3 separate regions of the Homo sapiens genome follow, and all the other regions are linked to region 3. Evidence: fine-mapped expression QTL. A gene starts in region 3. Each other region holds a variant in brackets. All regions are shown on one strand. Distances are from middle to middle.

Region 1 (5,210 bases), 140 kb before region 3:
AAAAAGAGTTGCAACCCAACAGGAAAAACTACTGAGAACACCATCTACACAGTAACACCTCTACCTCAAATTTGTATTTATTTAGATTTTTTTTTTTTTGAGACAGAGTCTCACTTTGTCACCCAGGCTGGAGTGCAGTGGTGTGGTCTCGGCTCACTACAAGCTCCACCTCCCAGGTTCACGCCATTCTCCTGCCTCAGCCTCCCGAGTAGCTGGGACTACAGGCGCCTGCCACCACACCCGGCTAATTTTTTGTATTTTTAGTAGAGACGGGGTTTCACTGTGTTAGCCAGGATGTCTCCATCTGCTGACCTCATGATGCACCCGCCTCGGCCTCCCAGAGTGCTGGGATTACAGGCGTGAGCCACCGCGTCCGGCCTATTTAGATTTTTTTTAACAAGCACTTGTGCTTACTATGTGCCGGGAGTTGTTTAATCACATTTTAACATAAATCATCTAATCCGGATTACAATTTTATGTGGTCCACTATCAGCCCCATTTTATGAGGGAACCCAGGATTGGAGACGTTAAATGCCTTGCCTAACGTCACTTAGCAAGTAAGTCACAAAGACAGGGAATGGTGGTCTGACTCTAGAATCTCTTATCCCTGTGTCATGCTGGGAACTGTGAGTATTCTGTCCCCATGACACAGGAGGCCCTGACAAGACAATTTTAGCTCATGTGACTGGGACTTTACAGCTTAAAGAATGAATTTTTAACACATGCTAGAACTAACATATTTGATATTTGTTATCCTTCACAGCTGTCACACTCTTGGAAGGCCATTCAGTCCAATAAAGCTACACAAAACATTTCTGGCATAAGCCATGTTAAAAAATAATCTTATCTCAGTACATACGCCACACTTAAAACACACATACACAGAGACTTCAACACTCAATTTACTCATCAAACTTAGTTCCATTAGACACCTGGTCTTTAAAAAAGCCTGTTTCAAAGGTACAAAGTTCTACCACGAGAATATTCCAAAGGGTGCATGTAGGTTTTGAAGGCAATTCCCATAGATGAAGCCCCAAAATACTGCTAACAAAATTGGGTCCACTTTATAATTAAGACAAATAAGTGCCTCTTTGCAGTAACTGTAATTTTTACCCTGTAACAGGTGAATAGTATTATGATTTAAAATCTTTTTTACTATTTGTATACCTTTTGGGAGAAAGGTGGACTAGTCATTTTTTTCCCTAGTTATTTTCAAGACTAGCAAAGCAGGAAAAGTGGAAATATGTTTACAAGCCATGCTGACAGGTAAAGATGCTTCCTTACGTTACAGACTCCCCATGCGACAGTACACTCTTCTGAAGTAGCGGACGCCTGGTTAGCTTGACATTCTATGCCTGTGGGAACAAGAGCAACAGGATCACTGGACCTTGGGAGCAGCAACGTTTCAATCTATAGCAGCCAAAACAATTCTCAAGTGGTTAATTAGCCATAATTGTTTTTTAATGAATGTGGGAAAGGAAGAACAGAGAAGACAGAGATAACAGTATGCTTTCTGACGATTTCCTATCCTTGTTTAAAAAGAGTAACAAATGGGAAATGCACATCTCACTCCCGTTGCCCAGGCTACAGTGCAGTGGCATGAGCATGGCTCACTGCAGCCTTGACTTCCTGGGCTTAGGTGATTCTCCCTCAGCCTCCTGAGTAGCTGGGACTACAGGTGCGTGCCACCACACCAGCTAATTGTTTGTATTTTTTGTAGAGATGGAGTTTCACCATGTTGCCTAGACTGAGTTTTTTTCCTTTTGAGATGGAGTTTCCCTCTTGTTGCCCAGGCTGAAGTGCAATAGCACAATCTTGGCTCACTGCAACCTCCGCCCCCCGAGTTCAAGCGATTCTCGTGTCTCAGACTCCCAAGTAGCTGGAATTAACAGGCGCACACCACCATGCCTGGCTAATTTTGTATTTTTAGTAGAGATGGGGTTTCTCCGTGTTGGCCAGGCTGGTCTCAAACTCCTGACCTCAGGTGATCCGCCCACCTCAGCCTCCCAAAGTGCTGGGATTACAGGCATGAGCCACCGCACCTGGCCTGCAATGAGTTCTTGACTGAGATCAAGATCTGATGGGTAAAGCACAACTGGGGATAAATATTCACAGAACAAGAATTACTAATGCATAACTTGCTTTCTCTGATCATAGTAACTAAATGGAGTCTCCCTTCTGAAGAATAAAAAGCTTCAGGAGAAACTATTTAATAGGGGAGAATTACTTCAAACTACTACAGGTGAAAAATAGTAAAACTATGGCTGGGCGTGGTGGCTCACACCTGTAATCCCAGCACTTTGGGAGGCTGAGGCAGGCGGATCACGAGGTCAGGAGTTCAAGACTAGCCCACCCAACATGGTGAAACCTGTCTCTACTAAAAATATGAAAAACTAGCCAGGAGTAGGCCAGGCGCGATGGCTCACTCCTGTAATCTCAGCACTTTGGGAGGCCGAGGCAGGCACATCATGAGGTCAGGACTTTGAGACCATCCTGGCCAACATAGTGAAAC[A/C]CCGTCTCTACTAAAAAAAAAAAAAAAAAATTAGCTGGGCGTGGTGGCGGGTGCCTGTAGTCCCAGCTACTCAGGAGGCTGAGGCAGGAGAATTGCTTGAACCCAGGAGGCGGAGCTTGCAGTGAGCCAAGATTGCATCACTGCACTGGAGCCTGGGCGACAGTGCAAGACTCCGTCTCAAAAAATAAATAAATAAAAATAAAAATAAAAAAATAAATAAAAATTAGCCAGGTGTGTGTGGTGGTGGGCGCCTGTAGTCCCAGCTATTCAGGAGGCTGAGGCAGAAGAATTGCTTGAATCCGGGAGGCAGAGGTTGCAGTGAGCCAAGACTGCGCCACTGCACTCCAGCCTGGGTGACACAGTGAGACTCTGTCTCAAAAAAAAAAAAAAAAAAGTAAAACTATTAAAAAAAACAAAACTAGATGTTAATGGGCATGTGTGGTTTTAGGGGAAGAGATACCATGATAATACCTTTTTCTTTTCACTCTTCGAAAATGTGGAAAGTGGGCCGGGCATGTTGGCTCACACCTGTAATGCCAGCACTATGAGAGGCTGAAGTCAGGAATTCGAGACCAGCCTGACCAACACGGCAAAACCCAATCTCTACTAAAAATACAAAAGTTAGTGGTGCATGGTGGTACATGTCTGCAATCCCAGTTACTTGGGAGGCTGAGGTAGGAGAATTGCTTGAACCCAAGGGGCAGAGGTTGCAGTGAGCCGAAGTTGCACACCACTGTACTCCAGCCTGGGCAAAAGAGCAAGACTCTGTCTCAAAAAACAAACAAACAAACAAACAAACCATAAAAGGCTGGGAGTAGTGGCTCACGCCTGCAATCCCAATGCTTTGGAAGGACGAGGGTGACGGATCACTTGATGTCAGGGTTCGAGACCAGCCTGGCAAACATGGCAAAACCCCCTCTCTACTAAGAAGGCAAAAATTAGCCAGGCATGGTGGTGGATATCTGTAATCCCAGCTACTCAGGAGGCTGAGGCAGGAGAATCACTTGAACCCAGGAGGCAGAGGCTGCAGTGAGCCGAGATCACACCACTGCATTCCAGCCTGGGTGACAGAGTAAGGCTGACACACACACACACACACACAGAGAAAGCAAAGCACTTACTTTTGCTAGCCAGATTCACACTACAGAGTAACTTGGTTTGCCAACTGATAAAAATAAAGAATTGGGGCCAGGCCCGGTGGCTCACGCCTATAATCCCAGCGTTTTGGGAGGCTGAGGCGGGTGGGTCACGAGGTCAGGAGATCGAGCCCATCCTGGCTAACATGGTTTCTACTAAAAATATTTAAAAATTAGCCAGGCGTGGTGGCGGGCACCTGTAGTCCCAGCTACTCAGGAGGCTGAGGCAGGAGAATGGTGTGAACCCGGGAGGCGGAGCTTGCAGTGAGCCAAGATCGCACCACTGCGCTCCAGCCTGGGTAACAGAGCGAGACTCTGTCTCAAAAAATAAAAATAAAAATAATAAAATAAAATAAAAATAAAGAATTGGGTCAGGCACAGTCGCTCACACCTGTAATCCCAGCACTTTGGGAGGCCAAGGCAGCAGGATCACTTTAGCCCACGAATTCAAGACCAGGCTGGGCAACACAGCAACATCTCATCTCTAGAAATAAAAAAATTAGCCAGTTGTGGTAGCACATGCCTGTGGTCCCAGCTACTAAGGAGGCTGAGGCAGGAGAATGGCTTGAGCACAGGCGGTTGAGGCTGCAGTGCACCATGATCGTACCACTGCACTCCAGCCTAGGTGACAGAGCAAAACCTTGTTATCAAAAAAAAAAAAAAAAAAAAAAAGGCCAGGCACGGTGGCTCGGCCGGGCGTGGTGGCTCATGTCTGTAATCCCAGCACTTTGGGAAGTCGAGGCAGGCAGATCATCTGAGGTCAGGAGTTCGAGACCAGCCTGGCCAACATGGCGAAACTCTGTCTCTTCTAAAAATACAAACAATTAACCGGGTGTGGTGGGTGGCGCATGCCTATAATCCCAGCTACTAGAGAGGCTGAGGCAGGAGAATCGCTGGAACCTGGCAGGCAGAGGTTGCAGTGAGCTGGGATCGCGCCACTGCACTCTACCCTGGGTGAAAGAGCGAGACTCCATCTTAAAAACAAACAAAAAAGGGATCTAGGGTCTATGCAGTGTATTTAAGAACTTATTGAAACTGGAATACACTACTATAATTAAAAGAATGGCAGAGAAAAGTAAATATGATGTCCTTTAAGCTGGATCCTCTAACTTAGAGGAAGACTATGTATTATAAAATTAGCTAAATAAGAGCCACAATTATTAAAGTGAAAATCAAAACTGTTTCAAGGTACATTATCGTGTTTAAATTTGATCTGGGTCTTTCTTTTGACTGTGGCCATGGCACTACTAACCTAAAGAACCCTTCAGGCTCCCTTCACGGTAGAGTCCTTTCCTTCGTCCCTGCCATACCTGGAACATGCTCCTCCTCCTATCACTCTCAAGTCCTCCCCACCCTTCAAGACCCAGCTTAAATCCCTACTTCTTGACTGAAGCTTTTCCTGACTCTTCCACCCTGAGTCATTTTCCTCTCCTTCAGGCACTCTTAACACATCAATTATGAGTATCTCTTTACATACCTGACCTCCCTCCTTCCCCCTCAACTCAAAGCTCCCACAGAGCAGGGACCTGGTCTTTCTATGCCAAGTGCAAATTAGGCTCTTG
Region 2 (5,224 bases), 190 kb before region 3:
TCTCTTGCCTCAGCCTCCCGAGTAGCTGAGATTATAGGCATGCACCACCATGCCCAGCGCGTTTTTGTATTTTTTGTAGGGACGGGGTTCCACCATGTTGACCAGGCTGGTCTCGAACTCCTGACCACAAGTGATCCACCTCCATTGGCTTCCCAAAGTGCTGGGATTACAGGCATGAGCCACTGCGCCTGGCCTCTTAATGAATTTTTAAGAAACGAAGCTCCATGGCCGTTGAAGATCAGTTGGCCTGTTAGTTTCCCCTTTTCCTTGGGAGGCACGGGAGGAAAGGGTTAAAGGAGGTGAACTGACAGCAGGGCAGTGAGGAGGAGGGACAGAGTTTGGGGTTGAGGGGTGGGGAGAAAAGGGAGCTGGAGGAGCAAGGGTGGGCCCCTTCCTACCCTACTGCTGGGCTCTGCTCAGCCCCAGGTCAGCCTCTGGGCTGGTGTCTTCACCATGTGGCAATGGTAATTGCTCCAGACCCAGCAGCTCCCCATTGCCCACACTTCCTCCTGTTCTTCCCGCCCCTCAGCCTTTGCGAGGTCAGCTTGGCCCTGAGCCTGTGCCCACACCCATGGCCTCCCTCTTTCAGGCCTGTTTACCTGGTGAGGTGCAGGATGCTGCAGGGTGTGCACCTGTCAGCCTCATTCAGCTGAGGAGCAGGCAGGGGTTAGAGCATGGGAAGCTGCTTTTTCTGCTGTAAATGAGGAACATTGGTTCATATGGACTCCAGGGATGAATTGCTGGGGAAAGGGAGCTCCCTTTGTTCAGTTTACAAAACCCCCCGTGGGAGCCAGATGTGATGGCTCATGCATGTAACCCTAGCACTTTGGGAGGCTGAGGTGGAAGATGGCTTGAGCCCAGGAGTGTGAGGTCAGCCTGAGCAACATAGGCAGGATTGCTTGAGCCTGGGGCATAGAGGCTCAAAAAAAAAAAAAAAAAAAAAACCAACAAAACAAAACTTTAGCCAGGCGTGGAGGTGCATGCCTATAGTCTCAGCTACTTGGGAGGCTGAGGCAAGAGAAACACTTGAGCCCAGGAGTTTGAGGCTGCAGTGAGCTGTGATGGTACCACTATACTCCAGCCTGGGTAACAGAGCAAGACCCTGTCTCTTAAAAAATAGAAAACAAAAATGAAGCCCACAGGGACACTTATTGCCCAGGCCGTGGGACCAGAGCTCCTCTGGGGCAAGGTCCGTGACCCATGGATGTATGGGTCCCCAGTGTGCAGGACAGGGCCTGGCATTTTGGGTGGCGGAGGGATGGAGGAGGCTTGGGAAATATTTACTAAATGAACAAGTGAATGAATGAGTGAGCCATGTTACATGCAGCTACAGTGAACACTGAGCGAAGTAGAAAAGACCAAGAGTTCCAAAGGCAACTAAAAACCTGGGCTCAAATCCTTCCCTGCTATGGAGCTAGCTCTGCTGATTTGGGCAAGTCGCTTAAAACACCATCTGCCTTAGGTTCCCTAACTGTAAAATGGAAGCAAAAAAATTCCACCTTGCTTATGAGGTTTACATGGAATGCTTGTAGAGCATGTGGGTAATGGGCTTAATAAATGGTCACCAGTATTTATTTTTTAATTAAAAAATATTTTGTGATACTTTATTTATGTATTTATTATTTATTTATTTTTTGAGACAGTGTCTCGCTCTGTCACCCAGGCTGGAATGCAGTGGCATGATGTTGGCTCACTGCAAGCTCCGCCTCAAGGGTTGACACCATTCTCCTGCCTCAGCCTCCCCAGCAGCTGGAACTATAGGCGCCCACCACCACACTCGGCTAATTTTTTTTTGTTTTTAGTAGAGATGGGTTTTCACCGTGATAGCCAGGATGGTCTCAATCTCCTGACCTCGTGATCTGCCTGCCTCGGCCTCCCAAAGTGCTGGGATTATAGGCATGAGCCACCACACCCGGCCAACATCATTGTTAGTAGTATTGTTTACTAATTCAACAAATATGTATCAAGTGCCTACTACATGCAGGGTCCTTTCTAGGCACTGGACAAAACATGCCAAGACCCTTCTGTCATGGGGTTTCTGTTCAGGCCAGGGAGAGGGACAATAAACACAAGGAAAGAGTAAATGAAGTATCATTGGAAGGTGAAAGATGTTATGGAAGAAGAAAATAGAGTGGGGGAGGGGATGCAGAGGAAGAAGGATGGATTGGGTTGTCATTTTAAATAGGGTGGCCCTATTAGAAGGCCGCATTAGAAAGTGACACTGGGGTCAGGCATGGTGGCTCATGCCTGCAGTCCCAGCACTTTGGGAGACCAAGGCGGGTGGATCACTTGAGGTCAGGAGTTCGAGACCAGCCTGGCTAACATGGTGAAACCCCATCACTACTAAAAATACAAAAATTAGCTGGGTGTGGTGGTG[T/C]GCACCTGTAGTCCCAGCTACTCAGGAGGCTGAGGCAAGAGAATCGCTTGAGTCCAGGAGGTTGCAATGAGTGGAAATTGCACCAAGCACTCCAGCCTGGTGACAGAATGAGACTCTATCTCAAAAAATTAATAATAGGCTGGGCACGGTGGCTCACATGGCATCCCAGCACTTTGGGAGGCAAAGGCAGGCAGATCACCTGAGATTGGGAGTTTGAGACCATTCTGACCAACAAGGAGAAACCCCGTCTCTACTAAAAATACAAAATTAGCCGAGTGTGGTGGCGCACACCTGTAATCCCAGCTACTCAGGAGGCTGAGGCAGGAGAATTGCTTGAACCCAGGAGGCGGAGGTTGTGGTGAGCCAAGATCATGCCACTGCACTCCAGCCTGGGTGACAAGAGCGAAACTCCATCTCAAAAATAAAAATAAAAATAAATAAAAAAATAAAAAGAAAGACTGGCAGGAAGGGAGACAGATGTGCCATATCTCAGGAAAGGGTATTTGCACAGAAGGAGCAGGCCAGTGTGAAATTCTTTAGGTGGGGTGGATGGAGTGGAGTGAGCTAGGGAAAGTGACAGGGATGAAGTCAGAGGTAAAGTGGCCATATCACGTAGGTCATCACCAGCCAAGTAAAGAGAAGCTACGGCAGGGCTTTGAGCATAGAAACAACACAATCTAACTTACATTTTGGGTTATTAGTCTTTTCTTCTTTTATTATTTTCAGAGACAGGGTATTGCTCTGTCACCCAGGCTGGGTTAGCCTTTAAAATGTAACTCAGGGGCTGGGCATGGTGGCTTATGCCTGTAATCCCAACACTTTGGGAGGCTGAGGTGGGAGGATTGCTTGAGGCCAGGAGTTCAAGACCAGCCTGGGCAACACAGCGAGACCCTCATCTCTACAAAAAATTTTTTGAAAATTAGCTGGGCATGGTAATGTGCACCTGTAGTCCCAGCTATTGGGGAATTTGAAGTGGGTGGATCACCTGAGTCCAGGAGTTTAATGCTGCAGTGAGCTATGATTGTGCCACTGTACTCTAGCCTGGGTGACAGAGTGAGACCCTGTGTCAAAAAAATAATAATAATAATAATTTTTTTTGAGATGGAATCTTGCTCTGTCACCCAGGCTGGAGTGCAGTGGTGCAATCTTGGTTCACTGAAACCTCTGCCTCCCAGGCCCAAGCAATTCTTGTGCCTCAGCCTCCCAAGTAGCTGGGATTACAGGAGCATGCCACCATGCCTGGTTAATTTTTTATATTTTTTGGAGAGAAGGGTTTCGCTATGTTGGCCAGGCTGGTCTTGAACTCCTGGCCTCAAGTGATCCACCTGCTTTGGCCACCCAAAGAGCTGGGATTACAGGCATGAGCCACCACTCCCAGCTTTAGATTATTAAAATAAAGGCTAACCCCAGCTGCCTGGATGAGCATAGACTGTAAAGAACAAGGGGAGAGAGGGGCAGAGAGAATTCAGTACTAGGTGCCAAGGGGGTAGCAGTGGTGGTGACAAATGGTTGGATTCTGGATACACACACACACACACACACACACACACACACACACACACACACACATATATATATATTTTTTTTTGAGACAAGGTCTCAGTCTGTAACCCAGGCTAGAGTGCAGTGGTGCAATCATAGCTCACTGCAGCCTGGAACTCCTGGGCTCAAGTAAGCCTCCTGCCTCCTAAGGTTCCTGCTCAAGCGAGGCTCCTGAGGCTCCTGCCTCAGCTTCCGGATTCTGGATATATATATATAGCTTTATTTCCTGAGGGGTTGGATGTGTAGTATGAGAGAGAGCCAAGGATGGCTGGAGGGTTTTGAGTCTGAAAAATGTAAGGAATGAGTTGCCACCAACTGAAACGGGCTAGGCTGGACATGAAAGAGGTTTGGGAGTGGGGTAATCAGGGGCTCAATTTTTTTCTGTTTTTGTTGTTGTTGTTGTTTGTTTTATTGAGACAGTCTCTCTCTGTCACTGCCCAGGCTGGAGTGCAGCGGTGTGATCTCGGCTCACTGTAATCTCTGCCTCCCAAATTCAAGTGATTCTCTTGCTTCAGCCTCCCGAGTATCTGGGATTACAGGTGTGTGCTACCAGGTCCAGCTAATTTTTTTATTTTTTGGTAGAGACGGGATTTCACTGTGTTGGCCAGGCTGGTCTTGAACTCCTGGCCTCAAGTGATCCATCTGTTTTTGCCTCCCAAAGTGCTGGGATTACAAGTGTGAGCCACTGTGCCTGGCCTGGAGCTCAATTTTGGATGTATTAAGATACAGATGCTGGCCAGGTGTGGTGGCTCACATCTGTAATCCCAGCACTCTGGGAGGCTGAGGTGGGTGGATCTTGAGGTTAGGAGTTTGAGACCAGCCTGGCCAAGATGGTGAAACCCCATCTCTACTAAAAATATAAACATTAGCCAGGCGTGGTTGTGGGCGCCTGTAATCCCAGCTACTTGGGAGGCTGAGGCAGGAGAATTGCTTAAACCCAGGAGGTGGAGGTTGCAGTGAGCCGAGATCGTGCCACTGCACTCTAGCCTGGGCAACAGAGCAAGACTCCATCTTAAAAAAAAAAAGAGATATAGATCCCAGTTAAACATGCACGTGAATATATCTAACGGGCAGTTGGATATTCAGGATCAGGCCGTGGAGTTGTTAGCACTGCTACGACTATTTTTTCTCCACTGTCATACTTGATCCTCACACCAGCCCAAGAGTAAGGCAGGGCAGGGATGATTCTCCCAGCTTGAGGGAATTAAAATTCTATGGAGAGTATATAACCAAAATAATTGAAAACAGGTATTCAAATACTTGTAGGCTGGGCATGGTGGCTCATGCCTGTAATCCTAGCACTTT
Region 3 (5,224 bases):
AATTGCTTGAACCTGGGAGGCAGAGGTTGCAGTGAGCTGAAGTTGCGCCATTGCACTCCAGCCTGGGCGACAAGAGCAAAACTGTCTCAAAAAAAAAAAAATATATATATATATATACGTATATGTGTGTATATATATATATATATATATATACGTATATATACGTATATATATATACGTATATATATATATATACGTGTATATATATATGTATGTATGTGTGTGTCTCGAACATCACAGCTTCATAGTTCCAGTTAATAACTGATGTAGCTATGCAGTGTCTACGTTTTTCAGTGCATACTGATTATATGAAAATGACTTTGGCTGGGTGCAGTGCTCACACCTCTAATTTGAGCACTTTGGGAGGCCGAGGTGTGTGGATCACCTGAGGTCAGGAGTTCGAGACCAGCCTGGCCAACATGGTGAAACCCTGTCTCCACTAAAAATACAAAAATGAGCCAGGTATGGGGGCGTGCACCTGTAGTCCCAGCTACTCGGGAGGCTGAGGCAGGAGAATCACTTGAACCCGGGAGATGGAGGCTAACATGAGTCAAGATCGCGTCACTGCACTCCAGCCTAGGTGACAGAGCGATACTCCGTCTCAAAAAAAAAAAAAAAAATACTGTTTTCAGTATGTCAGTCTTCAGTTGATCATGCTGGGCGCTGTGGCTCACACCTGTAATCCCAGCACTTTGGGAGGCCGAGGCGGGCGGACCACGAGGTCAAGAGATTTGAGACCATCCTGACCAACATGATGAAACCCCGTCTCTACTAAAAATACAAAAATTAGCTGGGCGTGGTAGCGCATGCCTGTAATCCCAGCTACTCGAGAGGCTGAGGTAGGAGAATCACTTGAACCCGGGAGGCGGAGGTTGCAGTGAGCCAAGCCTGGGCCACAAGAGTGAAACTCCATCTGAAAAAAAAAAAAAAGGTTGCAAGGCCCGGTACAGTGGCTCATGCCTGTAATACGAGCACTTTGGGTGGCTGAAGCAGGTGGATCACTTGAGCCCAGGAGTACAAGACCAGCCTGGACAACGCAGAGAAACACTGTCTCAGGTTTAAAAAAAAAAAAAAGCTGATCAAAATGTTTTTGGTATGTAAGATACAAAAACGTCAAAACAAAGTATTAACAATGTTTTCATAACTATGATGCATAATCCAGTATATTCTTGACAGCAAGCTCCCAATTTGATCAGGAGTCAATGAGAACTGAGTTCTCAAGTTTTACAGCCAACTAGTTTCTATGTTCCCATGCCAAAATAATCTTTTTTTTTTTTTTTTTAGGAGTCTCACTCTGTCCCAGGCTAGAGTGCAGTGGTGCAATCTTGGCTCACTGCAACCTTTGCTTCCTGGGTTCAAGCGATTCTCCTGCCTCAGCCTCCCTAGTAGCTGCAGTTTCAACATTGTAATTTCTACAAGGCGCGTGCCACCATGTCCGGCTAATTTTTTCTATTTTTAATAGAGACAGGGTTTTGCCATATGGGCCAGGCTTGTCTCAAACTTCTGACCTCAAGTGATCTGCCCGCTACGGCCTCCCAAAGTGCTAGGATTACAGGCCTGAGCCGCTGCGCCCAGCCCAAAATCATCTTCGCTTCACTTTTGGTCCTTCACTTTCACGTCATGATTCTATGGCGTGATGGGAATGTTCCTGGAAGCAGTATCTTCTGCAAATTTTGTGAAAACGGCCAGGTTAAACTTTGTTAGACCCCTCTCCCAGGGATTAAGTGTGATGATGGGCATAAAACACTAAGCCTGGCATGTAGTCAGCACTGAGGAGTTATCACGAGGATATTCTAAAAGGAAACATGGTAAAGACAAGTGGTGATGGTGTCTCAGGAAAGAATCCCTGAGTCCCTGAGGAGCATCCTGAAGCAGAATCTCACAGTATGACAGGTTAAAGCTGAATGTGGCTGCTTTAGTTTTGTGTAATTTTGTTAGTCACTTTGCAACATGGAAAAAAATTTTTTTCCTTCAGTATTTTATGAAGTACTACTACATAAATTGGCTTTCGTAATCCTCACAGCAGATGGGGATTGTTGGTACTAGTACATTGTCATTTCACAGAGGAAACCCAAGAGGTTAAATGACTTCCATAGTTGCCAACTAGGGGGAGGCTCCCACTCGCGTCTTGTATTTTGGGCTCCTGATGCTCAACATCTCTTCCCACCACACTCAAGGGTTTTTCTGGAGGAAGAAGTTTCCAAGTCCACAAGTGAGTTTTTTTCCTCTTGGCCAAAATGTGACTTTCAGAATAGAAAAGAGCTCAGGCGCAGAGAAACAGGGAGACTGGAGTCTCATTGAGTTTCCCCATCTTTGTCACCAGAGTAAAAGAAGGCCATTAAGACTTCTGAGATGGAGGAACTGGTCAGGGCCCGGGAACGCCAGAGAACGTCGGAGGAACCGGGAGCCGGGTACCTGGTGTCAGGCCGCCTTGCGCCTTGGAGCCCAGCCCCGCGAACACCTCGCTGTCCCGCCCCGCGCCCACAGGGGCCAATCAGCGTTCAGGGGCGTTCTTAGCCGCCCCCCCCCCCCCGCTTTCCCGCCCCGCGACCCGGAAGTGGTTCTAGGGCAGGCGGGCGGGTTTGAGAGGGCGGGGATTGCGACTCTCACACCCTGAGCTCCGGTGCTCCTTTCCTAACTCCACTGGCTGCGGCATCTGTGGGAAAAGTGTGGCTGGGTCTTCGAGGAGCCGCACCAATGGCTTCCGTGCTGTCCTACGAAAGCCTGGTCCACGCCGTGGCCGGAGCCGTGGTGAGACGGGGTCTTTACGCCCGGGCCGCAACGGGTTATAAGGCTTCTCGGGGGCCAGTCCCGGGATATGCCTGAGGGATGGGTCTGAGAGGGAGGTAGTGTGGGTTGGGGTCCACTGTCATGACTGTGGGGCAGAGAGGAATGGGCCATTGGCGGAAAGTTGTTGGAGGAATTCGGGGTAAGGGCCGAGACTCCGCCACCTCCTGGTCTCCTAGAGACTGCGGGGTAGAGAGCCGTGTTCACACGTGCCCGCTCAGGGTCCGCATCTTTGCCGTGGGAAGTTTAAGGTCAGGCTACCACCGCACACTCACACACTTTGCTTTACTGGCCCGGAGGAGAACGTAGGTGTGAAGCCGTGTTGCTTAGTCACATGCTTCCCTACAGCCTGTCTTCACGCTTGCCGCGGGCAAGTGGCAATACCTAGTAGGATAGCTCTGGGCACCGTTATTGGCAGGAGAAGATAGATCCTTTTTTTTTTTTTTTTTTTTCCGGACAGGGTCTTGCTCTGTTGCCCAAGCTGGAGTGCAGTGGCGCGATCACGACTCACTGCAGCCTCGATCTCCCGGGCTCCAGCGATCCGCCCACCTCAGCTTCCTGAGTAGCTGGGACTGCAGGTGTGAGCCACCACACCCGGCTACATTTTTAAAAAAAATTTTTGGGGTCTGGCAGTGTTGCCCAGGCTGGTCTCGAATTCCTGGCCTCAAACGATCCTCTCGATTTGGCGTCCTAAACTGCTGGCATGAGCCACTGTGCCTGGCTTTTTTTTCTTTCTTTCTAAATCAAGATCTGGGTTCCTGTCTACCACAAGTGTGGTTTGTTATGAGGTATACGCTTGATTCTTGGGCTTCTGGTGTCTAGGTTCCACTTGACACTTCCCCTCTCCCCTCTTTTCCTTAAAACTTTCCACTTTTGGCTTGGGTGACTCCTCTTGTGGTTCTTTTATCTCTTTGACTGCCTTTTCTCATATTCTTCACCAGTTGTTAGCACACACCTTTAGCTGTTAAAATCACTGTGACTTCAGAGGAACATCACTGAATCCTCTGTTTAGCCTCCAGAAACTTCACTGAGAGCTCACCTTCTCTGTAGACTAATCTGGATTTAACCCTAACTCCATCATTTGTTAGCTAGATGCCCTGTAAACCTTACTTTCTTAATCTGTAAAGTGGGGGAAGTGATACCTACCTCACAGAGTTTAGAGAATTAAGTGACACAGCATTTCATGAAAATGCCTAATTCAGGAAGCCTGGTTCATTCAGTTCAGCCAGAAGAGCCTTTCAGCCAGCATGAAGGCTGAGATGGACGCTTGCGTGACTTGCTTTAAGATGGGCATGGAGGCCTGTGTTTCCGGAGTGGAGGGAACAAAGAGGCAAATAGGTTTCAGGGGGCCAAATTGTGTGAGACTTTCACTCTGGCTAGCTGTTGAACTTGCTGATTTACCTTTAAACGTGATCACCCTGGCTGCTGTGTTGAGAGTAGAATGTAAGGGAACAGGGGACAAGCAATTATCAGGCGAGAGATGATGGTGACTTGGATCCGGGTGGTAGCAGACATGGTAGAAGTGATCATTGACCTGGAATATATTTATAAAATGAGGGTTGGTTGACTCCAAGAGTTTTTGGCTTCAGTAACTGGAGGGATGGTGGTATTTACTGGGATGGCAGAGGCTGTGAAGGAGAAGGTTTTGGGGGAAATGATAAATTTGGCTTTGGTTTTGGAGGAGTTTGAAATGCCTAAGAGTAGTCGTGAGACTAGATGAGCTCACTAGGGAAGTGTGTATGGACTGACAGAAGAATCTCAATGACTGAGTCTTGGAGCAGGCTAACCATTAAGAGGCCGAGAAAATAAGATTGCACCAGCAAAGGAGACAAACGAAGGATGGATCAGTACTGCAGGAGGGAAGCTAAGAACTAAGAGTGAAAGCCACGTGAAGAAAGTGTTTCTGGGGAAGGAAGTAGACCAGCTGGGTCAGATGCTGCTGATGGGTCAAGTAAGGTGAGGACTGAGAAATAACTGAGAATTTATCATGTTGATAAATCCAGTGGTTAATTGAAAAGACCAGTTTTGGTGGAGTGGTGGGGGAAATAGTTGGAGTGCATCTAAGAGAAGAAAGTGAGAAGATGGGAAATGTTTTTCTCTTCCTTCTTGCAATAAATGTTCATTAAACACCTTTATTGAGTGCATTCTATGTGCCACACGCTGTTCTAGGTGCAAGGAGTACAGTAGAGAAGGTCTTTTTCTTCATGAACTATGCATTGCAATAGGGGAGTCAGACAATAAATGAATAGGCTGGGTGCGGTGGCTCACGCCTGTAATCCCAGCACTTTGGGAGGCTGAGGCAGGCGGATCGCCTGAGGTCAGGAGTTCGAGGCCAGCCTGGCTAACATGGTGAAACCCCGTCTCTACTAAAAATACAAAAAGTAGCCAGGCATGGTGGTGGGCGCCTGTAATCCCAGCTACTCGGGAGGCTGAAGCA

Direction of the effects. Alleles are on the strand shown, and positions count from the first base shown. SD is a standard deviation of normalised expression in the study named.
In carriers of allele C in region 1, the expression in prefrontal cortex of the gene that starts at base 2,600 in region 3 tends to be lower than with A alone (small effect, 0.28 SD a copy in BrainSeq).
For the expression in tibial nerve of the gene that starts at base 2,600 in region 3, C is the low allele of the variant in region 2 and T is the other (small effect, 0.21 SD a copy in GTEx).

What was found. PIP is the estimated chance that this variant, and not a neighbour inherited with it, causes the effect. A credible set is the group of variants that fine-mapping cannot tell apart.
Region 1: its variant is the best candidate, but not a certain one, in a credible set for the expression of SLC25A17 in prefrontal cortex (BrainSeq, PIP 0.50).
Region 2: its variant is the best candidate, but not a certain one, in a credible set for the expression of SLC25A17 in tibial nerve (GTEx, PIP 0.86).

What each region holds. Positions count from the first base shown.
Region 1 is chr22:40,960,192-40,965,401 of GRCh38, reverse strand. RBX1 (ring-box 1) reads right to left here. Exons shown (of 5, transcript NM_014248.4): 3 at 1,285-1,355. Among named protein-coding and RNA genes, the nearest start is that of RBX1, 11 kb to the right of the region's middle. The variant A/C (reference allele first, on the strand shown) is at 2,513.
Region 2 is chr22:41,004,994-41,010,217 of GRCh38, reverse strand. No RefSeq gene overlaps it. Among named protein-coding and RNA genes, the nearest start is that of RBX1, 56 kb to the right of the region's middle. The variant T/C (reference allele first, on the strand shown) is at 2,378.
Region 3 is chr22:40,816,722-40,821,945 of GRCh38, reverse strand. It overlaps SLC25A17 (solute carrier family 25 member 17), which reads left to right and starts at 2,600. Exons shown (of 9, transcript NM_006358.4): 1 at 2,600-2,751. The coding sequence starts at 2,698. RefSeq lists an enhancer at 4,568-4,627.